Regions from separate parts of the Homo sapiens genome. Here region 2 is linked to region 1. The links come from fine-mapping of genetic effects on gene expression. A gene starts in region 1. The other region holds a variant in brackets. All regions are shown on one strand. Distances are between the middles of the regions.

Region 1 (8,754 bases):
GCAAACAGAGCCACCAACACCAATACCGTTCTGGCAATTCTCTTTCGGGATTCAATCTATAGGGGGAAGAAACATAGCAAAAAAAAAAAAAAAAAAAAAAAAAACACAAAAAACAACAACAACAAAAAAAACAAAACATTTAGCTGTGAGAGATTTTAAAAAGTTATCCTATAAATTTACATAGAAATTTACAGTTAATTACAGCTGATTTCCCTTTGAACATGCATTTGTATGCTAACTGGCTGGGATGTGCAGGAAGTCAGCCTGTGACTATATAACACAGCAAGTCAATTGGCATGGTAACCTCTGATCTTGGGCTCATTAACTCTAATTCAGAGATACCTTTCCCCCTAATTTCGAGATACTCTAGGATGTCTGCAGTTAACTCGAAGAATGCCGTGGAATTCTCCAAAATTTACTGTAATTAAAAACAAAGAGACGCTATACAAAATTGCTTTCACTGCATCAGCAGAAGCTGACTAGGTCAGAATATTGTTTTGAGGTCTATGAAAGTTGCCAAGCTGGTAACTAAAATTGTTTTTACTCTATAGGAATTCTAACCATATAGTCAAAGAAGTAAATCCAAAATGTGCTGTCCTTTTTATGTGAAGATAATCCTACCTACATCTATTAATAAGAGAAATGAGCCAAGTTAGGTGAATATATAGCCTGTGGTCACAAATAGAGCAAAGGTAACTGGTTCACATGGGTATTAAATATGCAACTTCAGTCTCATGAGCACCATTGTTAAACTAACTGAATGGACTAGCTCTAAAAAAGGCACAGTTCTCTGCGTACCGATCAAGGGGTAAATGGAATCCTCTCTCCCCCTTTCCCAGAGGTTAGAAAAATATTTTTAATCAAATGGAACTATGTTTTGGCAACATTCCTTTTATTCTGTCCATATTTATGAGAGGGAGGGTACACGTGGCTCTTGCAGTGGTCTTAATCAAGCTTCTGTGAGTCACTGTGTTCTCGTGCTACTTGCATTCCACTCTTTCCCCTCACTCCTCCCCACCTCAGTTTGCTCATCTGTGTGTAAGTGGTTTGCATTGAATAGTGTTACGGATTCTTGCCAGTTCTATATGCTATGTATTTTTATTCTGTTACACTTTCTAAAACAAAAGATGCTTTTCTTCATAGTATCATCTTATGCAGTGTTCCCCACTATTCCATGGGGTAAAAAATTTTGACTACTCTCAAACTTCAATTGTCCCCTCTCTAATAGTAGTAGTCTTACCATTTATTGAAATACTTACTCTGCACCTAAGCATTTCATCTATATCATCTAGTAATCATCTTCATTTTACAGATGAGGAAACCGAGGCTCAGAAAGGTTAGGTAACTTGCTCAAGATTACTCAGCTAGTACGTGATAGAACTGGGATTCAAACCGGAGCCTATGCTCATAACAAAAATACTACACTGCTATTGCATTTATAAACAGGAAGATACACAGTTACTCACTGTGCAAAAGTAGGAACTTCACTTCTAAATTCAAACTAGATTTGCATGAGTACTGATTAATACATACCTGCTTACGGGCATGGCTTTGTTCCTCAGTAGGTATGTTCAGGGTGCTTTTGTAAAGGGTCCTAGCAATCAAGGAATAGTAGACAGAGATAATAGAGAGTGGAATAATGTAGAACACTAAGAAGCACAGCAGAGAATGTATTTCTTGCAAGAGCTTCTTAGAGACAGGATAAGAGGTACATGATTCAAATGTCATATTTTTATTGGGATCTCGAAAAGTGTATACATTTGAAAATATAGCCTCAGGTAGAGCAAATATCATAGACACGATCCAGACGCAGCCAGCTTTTACACAAGTCTTCAGGATGGCATTGGAGGGCTGTCGCTCAAGTGGCTTCACAACTGCCTTGTATCTAGAAACACATAATCAGAGGCAAAGGTCCAAATAAATGTCAAAGTTACCAAATTTTAGGGTGAGAAGTGACCTTAGTGGTCATCCAGTTCTACCCTCCGTGCATATGTGTATAACCAAGTCAACATTAACCAACTAGAATTGGCTATGGTTTTAAATGCACATAATACATCCCAATATTTTTATTTATGCTAATCTCCTTTTCCATTATTCACTCCTATGAGATATTCCAGATTTGCAATTTTATAATTTTATGTATAGACTCTCTATTTAGGACAAATAAACATTTATCAGCATGACTTTATGTGTGACTGAGAGTAATTCACCACCTGTGTATTACCTTAAGTGTAATACACTTAAGGTACCTAAAAGACTTCTTTTGTATAAGTGACTGATGTTAAACTGAATTAATTTTCCTTTCTTCATGAGTGAACAGTTATCAACCTTCCTAGAAGAGAATTCCAAGGGTTTATGTGGTAAAGAGGAGAGGATTAATTTCTTCCCCGTTTGTAAGTGTTAATTCGTTGCCCAACCTGATCAGTGGACAGATTTAGGGCGAGGCAAAGTTGCAATCAGAAGTCCTGTGCCGGTACAGAGATACCTCCTCATTCAAACAAATCCACCTTAAAATCTACAGTCATTAAGCCAGTCTGCCCTCAAATAGAATATAAGACCAGTCAAAGCAAAAATCATCAAAAGACACAGGGAAAGGTTTTCCTCCTCTCAGATTCTAGAATCTGAAGAAGTTATTCCTTCTGGTACTGCCAAACATCGATTACTTACAGGAATCTTGCAGGCTTTGTAAAGCATCATTTTTAACATTTGGAGCCTCAAATTTTTTCATGTTTTTACAGTTATTCTACAATAGGAACACAGAAAAACAGAGTACTTGGACTGAAAATATCCTAACACAGAATCTGAACACCCTGACTGCAAGAGGATCTCACACGCTCTCTCCACAGAGCTCTAAAAGTCAACCAAGATTAATTTATTTCTCTGGAAATGATAATGTCACTGAATGCCTACAGAGAAAACAAGTAGAATTACGTGATGACATTACACTAAGTTACCAGGGAGTTGAAAACCTCACCGTTTTTCTGCCATTAGCTAATTTGATGAATTTCAAATAAATTAGATGCCTGTGTCTTTTTACCACTCTTCCAATATACAGTTATACATATGTGGTCAATTTCACACCTATCCTGGTTTTCATGTTGACTATATTGCACCACTAGGCTGCACTAATGTATAAAGCATGAATTTTTTTCCTTTACACCTGGAACAATTTGCTTTACTTAATAAACTGGAGAAAAATAAAAACCCCGTTCAGTATACTTCCGAGCAAACAATAAGAATAAATTATCCATAAAGCATGCAATTTCAACTTCTCCTCCGTGCTAACACAGAAATTTTAACATTCTTACACTAACTTTTATTTTAAATGCCACCAGATTTTCCAATCTCACATCCACGTTACAGAGTGTGAGAAAAGCAGAATAGTAGCCAGTAAATGCTAAGTACAAGCTTTCCTTTCTTTTTGCCCAATTTCACATCCTGGCAAATATAATGGAGAAAAGAAACTCACCTGTCAGCGCTGAGAATTGTTAATGTGAACACTGACACACCAACAGAAGTGAGCCGGATGAAAGAGAGCACCTTACAACCAATTCTTCCGAACAGCCATCCTTCTGCAAGGTAGTGAGTTGCATCCACTGGCACACAAGTTAGCAGAAGTAAAAGATCTCCAAAAGCCAGGCTGGTGATGAAAATATTTGGAACTGTTTGCATGGATTTGGTCTTGAAAAAGACTTTGATGAGAATAGCATTTCCAAGGATGCCCACTGAAATGATCACAGCATAAGTAATATAGATGGCACACAATGCTTCTATTCCTGGAGAGTTGTCCCCGCTCCATCCTTTATTTGTGTTATCGTTAGAAACCACAGAGCTTGATGATTCTGTGTCATTTGTGATTGAAATTAAAGTCTGATTAGGTGAGTGAGGCTGCCTTTGAGCCATTTCTTCTGAAGACTGTGTCTTTAATATTTCTTCTTCTCAGTTCAAATGCAGTTGATTGTCACGTCCAATGCCTACGTCTAGTAACGAGATGGTATTAGGAGAACAGAACAGAACAGAATGGGAAGAAAATCCAAGACATCCAGATACTCCTTTGCTTCAGTTCTGTGTGTCTCCCAGCATGCTTGGCTAAATGCTTACCCATCTGGCACTGAAGAGTAGGAGGTGGAGTTTTATTGGCGTGTCCTGTCATAAGGAGAGGGAGGGGGCTGGGGAAATGCTCTGCAGTTGCTTATTCTTCCCTGTTGGGGAATCTTGGGACCAACTAGACCCTATTAAATCGTCTTATTTATTATTAGAATCACCCTGTTTTCATATCTACCCAGGATGGTCTATATAGGTTTTGTCAATTTTTTTTAAGAAAAAAACCATTTATCCCCCTGCAATCACATGGTAGTCTAGTGCATTTTGTTTTACATGATAAATAAGTGTAGGTGTCCCCTGAAGCACAACCTTGAACCCACTCCTCAAAATTTAATATCAGAGAGATGGTGAAGCAACAGATCATTTACACTTCGACAGGGTTTATGTCACCTCCAAGGAGTGATCATTCAGGTCACTTGGGCTTAATACCTAGCTCTGTCACGTGGTAAACCCCAACTTTGCAGTTATCCAGGCTGTGCTGTACACTATCAAAACAACCTTTTTAATTTTTTTTTTTTTTTTGAGATGGAGTCTCACTCTGTCACCCAGGCTGGAGTGCAGTGGCTCGATCTTGGCTCACTGCAACCTCCACCTCCTGGGTTCAAGCAATTCTCCTGCCTCAGTCTCCCGAGTAGCTGGGATTACAGGCGCCCGCCACCATGCCTGGCTAATTTTTGTATTTTTAGTAGAGACAGGGTTTCACCATGTTGGCCAGGCTGGTCTTGAACTCCTGACCTCAGGCAATCCGCCTGCCTCAGCCTCCCAAAGTGCTGGGATTACAGGCATGAGCCACCACACCCAGCCAAAACAACCTTTTAAGAGATGAAAAATCCAGGCACAGCACCAGTTGCTTTGTCTCTAAATGTCCTAATAAAACCACTTTTTACTGTTTGACTGTCTGTTTTAATGCCATGTTTTCTTTTAAGGGGCTGTTTAGGATTTTTCTCTCTAGAAATGGTTAAAGGGAACCTAACCTGCCTTATTCCAAAACAAAACAATACAGAACATCACTGCTCAAGCTCCTGACACAAAAGAACTTTTAAGAATGAAAATCATCATTTGCAGATGAAGAAATGAAATAGGTGACTCCAGGGATGATGGGCATGTAGATGATGTTTACATCAACTGAAAGAAGTACACATTTAAGGCAACCACCTCAGTACCAGCCAGAGAAGCTACTTTTTACAGAAAACATAACCATGTGCTTTATATGTATGTGTTTGTGGTGGGGGCACTGTTTGGGAGCAGGAAGCTAGCAGTTGGAGTGTAGTTACTAATTGAAGCTGCTAAGAAATATTCTCTGAAATTATCAAATGCAATGCATAATCTCTCAGCTAGAAACCATGTAGTGAGGTGTTCATAAATATAACCATATTAGAAAGTAGTCTGGGGAGCGAAGTGAAAAAGAGCAAAGTATTTGGCTAGCTAATGAACAGGGGGAACAACAAAGGTTGTTCTTTATACTTAGTAGGGGCAATCAGTTCTTCAGAGAAAGTGAAGTGGATGAATTGAATCAATTACCTCCTTAATTTCATGAAGGGTGGAAGACAGATGTGGTTTAAGTCCCCCAAACCACACCTATCCCCCACCCTTTATAAGTTATTGCCACAGCTTGAATCACTCAGCTAAATAACTGCCTTTGATGGGAATGGGGGTGCGGGGGAGTGTTTGCATAAACCCAAGTTCCTAAGCTTTCAGATATATACACTCTAGTAATTTCATACACTGGGCTGGTTCTTTAAGATTGTCTCTACAGAAAAGGGCTCCTTAAAGGGTTCACATCTTGTTCTCAGCAAACTAATGATAAAATCTCCCTGGGACTCCTGTGTATCATTTACCAAGGAGCAAACCATGTCTTCCAATTCACACCACAGCCGATCTCCACATGGCACTGTTTTGTAAGTTCTGTAATGCTTGCATGTGATTTCTGAGATTATCTGAATTCCCAGATCTCACTCATGCTTTCAGCAGGCTGCAGCCACTGGAATACTTTTTCTTCTCCCTCTTCCTTCTGATCAAGAGCGGTCAAGAGAGAGTAGTTGTATTGGAGTAGTACTGGAGCAGTGGGGGTCTTAGATCTCTAGAATTCCAGAATCCCAGAATATCAGAGATGGAAGTGACCCTAGACATGATCAAATCAAATGCTCTCATTTTGCAGAGGCAGAAATGAGGTCCAGAGTAGGGAAAGTATCTCACCCAAGGTCTCACAAGTTCTCAACAGAACTAAGATGAAACACAGATTCTCTTTGGCTTCTGAAAGGTTAAAAATCAGTGACAAGAGCTGAAAAACACTCAGTTCCTGACAATGAGCCATATTTGCTCATTTGGCATTGTAGGCTTAGGTTTTCTGCGTGTTCTATTAACCAAAGAACAAGAGATTTCCAGGCTAACCAGTGATTCATGATAGATAATTTAAATGCATTTGCTTTTGTATCTCTTTTACAACCTTATAATTCACTAGCAAAAGATAACCATGTCTTGTTAATCATTTTTAGCTAGGCACTTGGCCTATACAAAATGATGAAATCCTTTTTTGTTTTTAGTACATAAGTGGTCAATATTATCATCCAAGATTTTCAAAACAACTACTTGGTTTTAGATAAGGAATTGTAATACAATCCTAATGCAGCTTTTTGACTCAGAAAAGTATTAGAAGTTGAATGAATAAGTTACCAATTTTCTGAAGTTGTGTTTTCTGGTTCACAGCCCAATTTAGTTGGTGTTGTAAAAATGTTTTTTTAAGTCTCTAAGGAGCTGGGCATCTAAGGGTGCTGAAGAAGCCTTCTCTACCTCTCAGGTGGTGGGGAGAGGGGTTAGAAAACAGCTGCCAGAGAGAAGCTGCCAATTTGGTTCTAAGATTCTCGGCCATCAGTAAACAGGACAGTGGTTCTCAAATTTTGGCTTGCCCCAGAATCATCAGGAAGGCTTATCAAAACACAGATTGCTGGGTCCCACCTCCAGAGCTTCTGATTTGGTAGGTCTGGCGTGGGACCTGAGTATGTGCATTTTGAACAAGGTCCCAGGTGATGAGGATGCTGCTGGTTGGGACCACACTCGAGAACCACTTAGGATAAAAATAATTCAGTTCTTCCAAGAGGATCATGGGTTTTTTTTTTCCTGATACTGAGGTGCAACAGATATTTCTGTGGGTCTTCATTAATGAAAAAGGTACTCTCTGCTGTGATAGATATGTCAAAAACCTTCCTGGAGCTGGCTGTCCTCCCTATATATCTTAATCCCTGGTAAGCCAGATTCACTGAACTCTTGGGCATCTATGCCCAAATCATCCAGGGTGCTTGGGGTGATCTCTCCAATGGGAGAAAGATGAAGTGCATAAACTTTTTGCCTCTTACTCAATTTCAAAATCTGTTTGTATATTTAAGAACTGAAAATTGAATGACTAGAACTCTCAATCTTTAAGTCTCTAATGATCAAGCTTTCTTCTTTTATACTTTTGCACTAGGAAGTTGGATGGATTTCTTTGTTATAGATTAATTGGGTTAGATCAATTATAGGATAATATAATTCGACATGTGGGTGTGTTTGGAGCTATGTAATAATTATTTCTGTTGTCACAAAGTTCTCTTTCATTACTTCTGGTCCTAAAACCTGATTGGTACAGTTTCATATTCCAAGGGGAGCTTACTGTTCAGAATGGCCTCTGCAGAGACCAGGTAAAATAAATACAACTGTGCCATGGAACAGTTGTACTATTCTACTCTACATGGTAGAGTAGAAAGCCAAGAGGTAGAAGCAAAGAGTAGAAATTCCAATTGAATCTTTGAAATGGAATTTTTTGTTAAAGGCAAATTCTTGTCATGATTAAACTTAATGGCTCTGTAAAAGTGGACAACCATGTAGGCTGTTGGCAGACTTAGGTACCTTTATAGATGCCCTTATCACTGTACTTGTCCATCCACACATGCCTAATGGTGTATGCTATGATCCAGGTGAAATTCTACTATTATAATAGATTGAGACAATTTTGTGATTACATAAAATGTTTAGGCTTCCTGCATATATTGAAGTACAAACTATTAAGTAGATGAATTTTTCTCTTAATGCATTTCTATCTTTCTTCTCAGTAATCTTCCTTTTCCTGGAATTCTCTGCTATATCCTCAACCATGTGTACCATTCCCATATGGCTTACTTTCAGCTTCCTACTTCTTAATCCTGTTCAGGTGCCTCAAATCAATGAAAATTGTACATTTACCATATAGCTCCACAATTTCACTTCTAGGCTTCTACCCAAAATAAATGAAAACATACATCTACACAAAGACTAGTAAGAAAAATGAACATTGAAGCATTTTTTGTAAAATCAAATGAGAAATAACCCAAATGTCTGTCTGTTATGTTAGCAAGTGGGTTAACAAAATGTGGCTTACCCAGGCAATGGAATACTACACAGCAATAAAAAAGGACAATTGATACTTATTACAACATGGACGAATCTTAAACGTATGCAATGAAAGACACCAGATATACTATATGATTCCTTAATATGAAATTGCTAGAAAAGACAAAACCATAAATTATAGACAACTCACAAATAGTTGCCTGGGTCTGAAGGTTGGGGCAGGGATGACTGCTAAGCAGTACAGGGAATATTTAGGAAAGATGGAAGTATTCCAAAACTATGTGGTGT
Region 2 (8,754 bases), 66 kb after region 1:
ACTGTGTAAATGCTCCACCTCTGCCCTCTCTCCCAGGGGATGATCCCACACAATCCCCCCAAATTATGCAGACTATAGTCTCTCACCTCAAGTGGATCTTTAAGGAGACCTACAAATTTTTCTGTTTTGCTACTTAGCTCTTCCTCCTGTTCTCTATAGCAGCTATTTTAAACCTTCTCCATCTTATCAGTCTCTTCTCACTCTCAGCAGGTTGCCTCACCTCCTACTTCACAGAGAAAATAGAAGCTATCAGATGAGAGCTCCCTTAAATTCCGATTACCAAATCTATATATTTGCCTGCGTCCACACCCACCCTTGCCACCTTCCTTCCTGTTACAGTGGAGTGCCTCACCTTCTAAGAGGAATCCTTCCATCTGTGCCATGGATCCCATCCCTTCCTTCCTTGTTCTACTGGCTAAATTATGTCCCCCCTCAATATTTCAACCTCTATATTTCTGCTAGGTACTTCCCTTAACCATGTAAATGTGTTCATCTCTCTCTTATCTTAATACTACATTTTAAAAAACTTTCTCAACCTCAGTCTCCTCCAGTGACCTCCACCCCTCCACCAACTTTTGCAACTTAGTGGCTACGTTTATTCAAAGAGCTACATTGCCCTCTTCTCCTTCCTCACTGCTCAACCTCTTGGATCTCACTAAAGTTTCCTTGGCTTACATGGGACCTCATATTTCTGGTTTCCTTCCTACCTCTCCAACCATTCCTTCAGGATGTCCCTTGCAGGATGATCCGCCTATGCCTGGCCCTCAGTGCTCCTCATTTCTGGGCCTACTTGCTTCCATTCTTCCTCCGTGTACTCCCCCTTGGGAATCGCATTCACTCCTAAGGTGGCTTCAATTACCATTGATATTGCCAAAATCTCCATTTCCATCCCTAACCACTCTTCTCTCCTCCAGACTTACATATCCAACTCCCTTCTAGACATCTCCACCTGAATGTCCCACAGGCATCTCAAAACCAGATGTCCAAGACTGAATTTATCATCTTTGTCAACAAAAACCCTTTGATCATTTTCACTGTTACATCTCAGGGAAATTCATCACACTGCATATATTCCTATTATTACTAAACTTTTAAACTACAAAAGTTATAGATACTCTATAAAAATTCAACATATACAGAAGTATGTAAAATACAAAGTGAAAGCCTCATCAATACTTCTCCCCAGAGGTAAACCACTATCAACAATGAGGAGTGTGTCCTTACTTTTTTCTGTATAACTATGGACATGCATGCACACACAAAGTTTTGTTTTTACACATACTTTATCATGCTACATGTACTGTCATGCAAATTTCTTTATGGCAGAAAAATATATTGTGGATATATTTGTATTATTAATCAAATTGGTATAGCTTCTTCTTAGCTGCATATTATTCCATACTATATATAGCCCACATTTATTTAACCCTTCTGATATTGAAAAGCTTTAGCTTATTTCCAGTTTTCACTATTTCAGGGTTGCACTGAATAACCTTGCCCATAAATTTTTGAATTGTTGAGCTAGGATAGAATGCTATAAGTGGAATTTCTGAGCTAAGTTTATATACACTGAAGTTTGGATAGACATTGCTAAAGTGTGCTCAATAGCTTGAATGGGGTTTTCCCTCTACTTTTCAACTGAGAGACAGCATACTACAATAAGATGCATAAAGTACATTATTTTAAGTGTGCAACTGAATGAACTTTTATATGTGTACTTAGCTATGAAAGCACCATTTCCGGCCTCCCAGAAGGCTCCCCCCGGCTTTTTTTGTGTTTTGTTTTTGTTTTTTTTTGTTTTTTTTTTTTTTTTTGAGATGGAGTCTCGCACTGTTGCCTGGGCTGGTGTGCAATGGCGTGATCTCGGCTCATTGCAACCTCCGCCTCCTGGGTTCAAGCGATTCTCCTGCCTCAGCCTCCTGAGTAGCAGGGATTACAGGCACCCACCACCATGGCCGGCTAATTTTTTGTATTTTTAGTGGAGATGGAGCTTCACTACGTTGGCCAGGCTGGTCTCAAACCCCTGACCTCGTGATCTGCCCACCTCAGCCTCCCAGAGTGCTGGGATTACAGGCGTGAGCCACCACGCCTGGCCAGAAGGCTATCTTTAAACCTTCCCAGTACAGACTTCTCCCTGAGAGATCACCACTATTCCAATTTCTATAATCATCGATTGTTTTTGTCTGCTCATATAAATGAAATTGTACCGTCAAAGAAGCCAGACTCATTTGTGTCTGGTTTCTTTGACTCAACATGTTTTATATTTATCCATGTTGTCGTGTGTGTGCATAGTTCATTTTTTACTGTTATATAGTATTCCATTGGATGAATGTCCCACAATTTGTTTATCCATTCACCTGCTGATGGACGTTTTGGTTGTTTCCACCATGTTGGCTGTTATGAATAATGTGGCTATGAACATTTGTGTGCAAATATTTGGTTGACACGTTTGCATTTCTCTAGGGTGTATATGCCCAGGAGAATTGCTGGGTCATAGGGTGTGTTTAACTTTCTTAGAAACTACAGAACAGTTTTCCAAACAGGCTATACCTGTTTGCCCTTCTGCCAGTTGTATAAATTGAAACTTCCTAGCATATGAAAGTATCAAATAGTGTATTGTTACTGCACACTTGTCTCCCCAGACAAGTTTAGGAACTGTCTTGTTCAGTACATCAAGTATAGTGGATTCTCAATAAATATTTGTGGAATTGGACTAGTAATTAAGTAGTTACTATTTGTTATGCTTCAAGGTCTCTACCACACAATTTTAAGAATTAACATATGTTACTGTGGACAAACTGTTGTAGGTATGGATGTTTTATTACACGAAGGACAGCCCATTTTTATGTGTGTAGGACTGTGGCCTTTACTTCATTGTATCCTCTACGGAGCTTAGCATAGAAATGGGCACAGAGGAAGTGCCCATAATGACTAGCATGCTGGACTTAGAGAGCTACCAGATTCAAAGACTGCCAAGCCTCTCTGAAACCTTTACCTGCTCATATTTCTAGACTCAGGTCTAAAGGAGGCAGAGAGAAGAGAAAAATTCTCTTCTATCCCTCACTATCTGCACTGTCACCAGCCCCAGTTTCTTAGGTTTTTAACTATAGATAGATAGTTTTCAACTTAAAAATGTTAGCCAGCTCATTCATCTATCTATCTGTAATTAGAAACCTAACTGTCTATCTATAGTTAGTTACTATCTATCTATAGTTAGAAACCTAAGAAACCTGATTTCTCAGGTCCACTAAAGACCCAGATCATGCAGGGTAGGAAAGAGCGATCCATGATAAAGTATATCTTTATGTCTCTCCTTCTGAAAGGGCCAGTGCATGAAGATTTGATATAGCCCGTTACACTAGGTCTTTATTCTTCCCCTGTAACTGTCTCTAAAATTCTCCATTCCTCTTGGAATTTGTGAGCTGAGGATGTAAAAAAGAAAAAAATCTTTCTTGCATGAACTAGGCCTTCATCAAAATTCACTCCAACTCAGATTCATTTCCATTTCTAGTCCCATTGCTGCCCACAACCAACTGAGCATGATGAATGAGTTGGCTAACATTTTGAAGGTGAAAACTGTCTATCTACTCATCTAACCATCTATCTAGCATGTCCCCGGATTTGAGTGTCTTCACTTTATTAAGGTAGCATATCCTTCAATCTTGCCTCCCCTCACATCTAAGTGAAGGAGATGTAAACAACAATCCTTACCCTTGTTTCTATGATGAATTCTAGGTTAACATAAGTAAGTCTTAGCAAACTTGGGAATCTGCCAGTCCCAACTTTTTGTTTAATTTACATAATCATTTGCATAGGACTGCATATATTAAGGAAACATCTGTACTTTTCTTACGCATTTAGATGAGATGAAATTTTTTCAGTATTTGAAGTTACTACTTAATATTGATTTCTTCTGCCTCTCCCTTTTTAGGAATCTCACTTTGTGAACATAATGCCATTAGCCTGGTGAGGTGGAGAATGGAAGTAACACTCCTCCTAGCTTTCCTTCTCAGACAACAGAGCACTCCTTAATCAGAGCTGAAAGGTCCTGGAAGTTGGGATCAAAATATATTTTCAAATATTTAAGGGAACTCATAAAAAGCTTTATGGTGAAGCACCTTCAAAAAGTGTAATTAAAAAAATGCCCTTTCAAGTGCAAAGACATAAAGGTATACTTTATAATGAATCACACTTTCCCAGCCTGCATGATCCGGGTCTTTATTGGGCTTAAGTAATTAGGGTGCAGAATGGAGGTTTGGGGAATATTTCCTAGTATTGGGGCTGAAGAGGTGCTTGTCTGGAGAGACATGGCAAGGTGACAACGTAGACAAACAATAAAGCTCATTTTAATACATTGGCTTTCCTTAGAGTGAGGCCAACTTCTGTACCCAGTATCTCTAAAGATCACCTTTTCTAACAGCACTCTTATCTATCATTCTGGGACGCTTATCTTTAACACTTCAGCTCTCTCAGCACATCCTGATTCACTTTAGTCTTAAAACGTAACTAGTGAATACCTATGTGTCTGGAATTGGTTCCTTCTGCTGCGTTCTTGGTCTC[A/G]CTGACTTCCAGAATGAAGCCGGCGACCCTCCCAGTGAGTGTTACAGTTCTTAAAGATGGTGTGTCCGGAGTTTGTTCATTCAGATGTTCAGCTGTGTCTGGAGTTTCATCCTTCTGGTGGGTTCGTGGTCTCGCTGACTTCAAGAGTGGAGCCGCAGACCTTCCCCCTGAGTGTTACAGCTCTTAAAGATGGCGCTTCAGGAGTTGTTTGTTCCTCCCGGGGGCTTCGTGGTCTCACTGGCTTCAGGAGGGAAGCTGCAGACGTTCGCAGTGAGTGTTACAGCTCTTAAAGGTAGTGCGGACCCAAAAACTGAGCAGCAGTAAGATTCATTGCTAAGAGCAAAGAACAAAACTCCCACAGCGTGGAAGGGAACCCGAGTGGATTGCCACTGCCGGCTCGGGTGGACAGCTTTTATTCCCTTATTTGGCCCCGCCCACATCCTACTGATTGGTCTATTTTACAGAGTGCTGATTGGTCCATTTTACAGAGTACTGATTGGTCCGTTTTTACAGAGTGCTGATTGGTGCATTTACAAACCTTTAGCTAGACACAGAGCGCTGATTGGTGTGTTTTTACAGAGTACTGATTGGTGTGTTTACAAACCTTTAGCTAGACACAGAGCACTGATTGGTGCGTTTTTACAGAGTGCTGATTGGTGTGTTTACAAACCTTTAACTAGACAGAAAAGTTCTCCAAGTCCTCACTCGACCCAGGAAGTCCAGCTGGCTTCACCTCTCACCTGAATGAGGCCTCAGGGTAGGGGAGAGATCTATTCTTCTTAGCACTATCCCACCCTCACTGAAGAAGGATGCTACTGAATTAGTTATCATTCAACCAAAGTATATCCACTTCTATATTGTGTGAGGTGAACATGTGGGGTTTTTTCCTACCTACTCATTCATTCCTAACACCCTACTTTCTTTTTGTAGAATGACTTCTTCCCCATTGTGGATATTCTTGGTGGGATGGTAAATTCATACTTCTACCACTATCAAAACCAAAGTGCTCCTGAAGATTTTTTCTGCCACATCCTTCCTCTCACTGCTCAGTATAGCACAAAATTTAAGCTCAGCTGATTAGATACAGGCTCACAGGATTTTGAGTCTTAAGCTAGTAGTATGAGCATAGAAATTACTGTTTATTCTTCCCAGTAATGGCGCCCGCATGAGTCTACTTCCCTGTTAGGAGACAATCACTATGGTTCCTGCTTTGTAGACTCCTGTCCTTTTTCAAGCCCTGTTCTTTTTTCTTCTTTCTTTTTTTAAAACGTTTAAGTTCAGTGGTACAAGTGCAGACTTGTTACACAGGTAACCTTGTGTCATGGGGGTTTGTTGTACAGATTATTTCATCACCTAGGTATTAAGCCTAGTACCCATTAATTGTTTTTCCTGATCCTCTCCCTCCCCCCACCCTCCACCCTCTGCAAGGCCCCGGTGTGTATTGTTCTTCTCTATGTGTCCATGTGTTCTCATCATTTAGCTCTCACTTATAAGTGAGAACATGCAGTATTTGGTTTTCTGTTCCTGCATTAGTTTGCTAAGGATAATGTCCTCCAGCTTCACCCATGTCCCTGCAGAGGACATGATCTCCTTCTTTTTTGTGGCTGCGTAGTATTCCACGGTGTCTATGTACCACATTTTCTTTATCCAGTCTATCACTGATGGGCATTTGGGTTGATTCCTCTCTTTGTGAAGAGTGCTGCAATGAACATATGCATGCATGGGTCTTTATAATAGAATGATTTATATTTCTTTGGGTATATACCATTTGGCTTGCTGGGTCAAATGGTAGCTCTGTCTTTAGGTCTTTGAGGAATCTTCACACTGTCTTCCACAATGTCTAGACCTCTTCTTTAACTTTCCCATAAATGTTTTGAATTCCCAAAACACTTTCAACAAGTCCCCTTGGTTAGTCAGAACTGACAATAATGTCAGCTCAAAGACATTTGGTTTATGTGGCTGGCAACCAAAGAACCTAGAGTAAAACATTGTGCTAGGTACTGAGAGTACAATGGTAAAAAATACAAACAAGGTTCTTGCCCTAATGGAGTTTATATAATAATGGAAAGCGTAGGTCTACTCAGCACTAAGATAACAAACCCTAGATTAGGAAAAGTCAGCCATTGCTTTCCTATGCTCATGTATTTTAGACCATTTATGCACTCAGGCATGTGACAAATATTTATGGAGTGTCTATGAGTTACCAGACATTATAAGTATAAATTTAATCCATTCCACTGGTTTTGCCTAATCAAGACAGGTATAATTAGGTCCTTCCTTCGTTGCTCCAAGCTCCTTGTGTACCCTAAATGCTTGAAGGTCAGGACCAGAAACACATCATAGGCTTGAGCTATTAGAGATACAAGCCTTACCTCCTCTTAGCTTTCTGCCCCCTCCCCAACCTTCCCATATTCCTGGGTACAGGGGAAGTGGGCCATCACAGATGGTCACTGTCATCTTTGGGACTTTGGACAAAATGATAAGGATTAGGATTCTGCGCAGGAGCTTCCTCAGACATGCCTCAGAGAGAGTTTAGTACCATTCAGTGTTTGCCACTTGCCCACAGGGTACCCAGGGTGCAGCAGAGAATGAAAAGTCCATGCCCTGAGGTTCCAGGGGGCTTTGTAAATTTGCTGATCAATGCTTAATAAAGACAATTTGCCTGTGGTATTGAGAAATAGAGTCCTGTCTTATTCAAATGTCCACCCCCGCCACCATTGGCCCCACCTGGAATACCCTACTCTCAGCCTGACTAAATCCTCTGTGACTTCCTACCTGTAAAGCACTTTCTTCTATCATATCCTTGCTCTAATCATTCACTATTCCAGTGTATGCATCTGGTCTCCCCAAGTATACAGTAAACTGCTGGAGGTAGTGGCCTAAGTATGATGTGTCTATATCTTTCCCTCCATGTCAGGACTCTGTGAATACTTGGGAGTTGATTGTTGATTGAAAGCAGTCCAAAGTTTCTAGGGTCTTTTTTCCATAATTACTTGGGTCCACCTTCACACAAGTATCAGTCATTTTGTGCGCCCAGGAAAAGCAAGCCAAAGGATGCCAGTAAGATATTTAATCAGTGTTTTCCCTGCAATTTCAAACTGCCTTTGAAATTGCAGAAAGCCTGTGTTTTCCTAATTAGCAAGGGGTGTCATGATAGGAATCATGAACTTTTCTATCAAATAACGTTTCTGTTCTCGACAGTCTGTCAGGTCATTAGAGATAGGCTGTACATTTATCACTCCAGCAGCAGCAGAACAATCAAGGTTTTATTACTTGTTGAAAATAAATACAATCATGGGCATTTTAACAGCCAAAATGATCCCCCAAATCAAATCACTTGCAAAATGCATTTATTTGTAAAAGTGCTAATTGCAACCAAGTCTTGTCCTTAAATCTATTTTTGAGTGAAAGTGACTTAATATTTCGGTTCAAAGACATGTAACATTCAAGACACTTTGATCATTATTCATGTTAGTCCCTTCACACACACGGACACACACACACACACACACACACACTCACTCACCTTTCCCTACCAAAAAAGTACACATGGAGCCACATGGGGAACAATGGATTTGACTCTGATGGCAGATATTCGGGGGCCTAAGGGCCAACCTAATTTTTATATTATGTGAGGTGTTAGGGGGAACAATGGAGACCTAGGAGTTTTATACCAGTGACTGGCACCAGTGCTGTAGTCTGTTTGGTAGTCAGCATTAAATTTTGCTTAGAAGATCAATGTGATACCTTTAATGGGGTAGACATGGTAGGTTGGGGCCATGAGGGGATGAGTGGTAAGCTGATTGGGGTTTGAAAGAGAAAGGAGTGAAGATATACTGTGTTACACTGTGCTAGAACATTTTCAGACCTCATCTTATTTCAGTTTCACTTCAATTTTAGGATGCATGCATGATCATTATTACATCACGAGGTCGCACATCTAGAAAGTGACAGAGCTGGGATTTGAACCCAATTCTGCTGTCTCCACAGCCCACTGCATCATATATATTCACAAGGGTCCTGGGGAACTTGATTTTTGGTATTGAAATGTAGGTGTTTATCTTTCTCACTGGAAGGGTCTGGTTATCCTTATTTATTTATGTATTCATTTATTTATTGCTCCAAGCAGTAATATATTCTCTCAATACAAGATTCAAAAGATACAAAGAGGTATAGGGTGAAAAGTAAATGTCT

Alleles and levels. Alleles are on the strand shown, and positions count from the first base shown. SD is a standard deviation of normalised expression in the study named.
As copies of A replace G in region 2, the expression in testis of the gene that starts at base 4,071 in region 1 goes down (small effect, 0.18 SD a copy in GTEx).

The links. PIP is the estimated chance that this variant, and not a neighbour inherited with it, causes the effect. A credible set is the group of variants that fine-mapping cannot tell apart.
Region 2: its variant is the best candidate, but not a certain one, in a credible set for the expression of BRS3 in testis (GTEx, PIP 0.79).

What each region holds. Positions count from the first base shown.
Region 1 is chrX:136,483,264-136,492,017 of GRCh38, reverse strand. It overlaps BRS3 (bombesin receptor subtype 3), which reads right to left and starts at 4,071. Exons shown (of 3, transcript NM_001727.2): 1 at 3,470-4,071; 2 at 1,534-1,885; 3 at 1-56. The coding sequence starts at 3,903.
Region 2 is chrX:136,417,670-136,426,423 of GRCh38, reverse strand. No RefSeq gene overlaps it. Among named protein-coding and RNA genes, the nearest start is that of BRS3, 66 kb to the left of the region's middle. The variant A/G (reference allele first, on the strand shown) is at 4,561.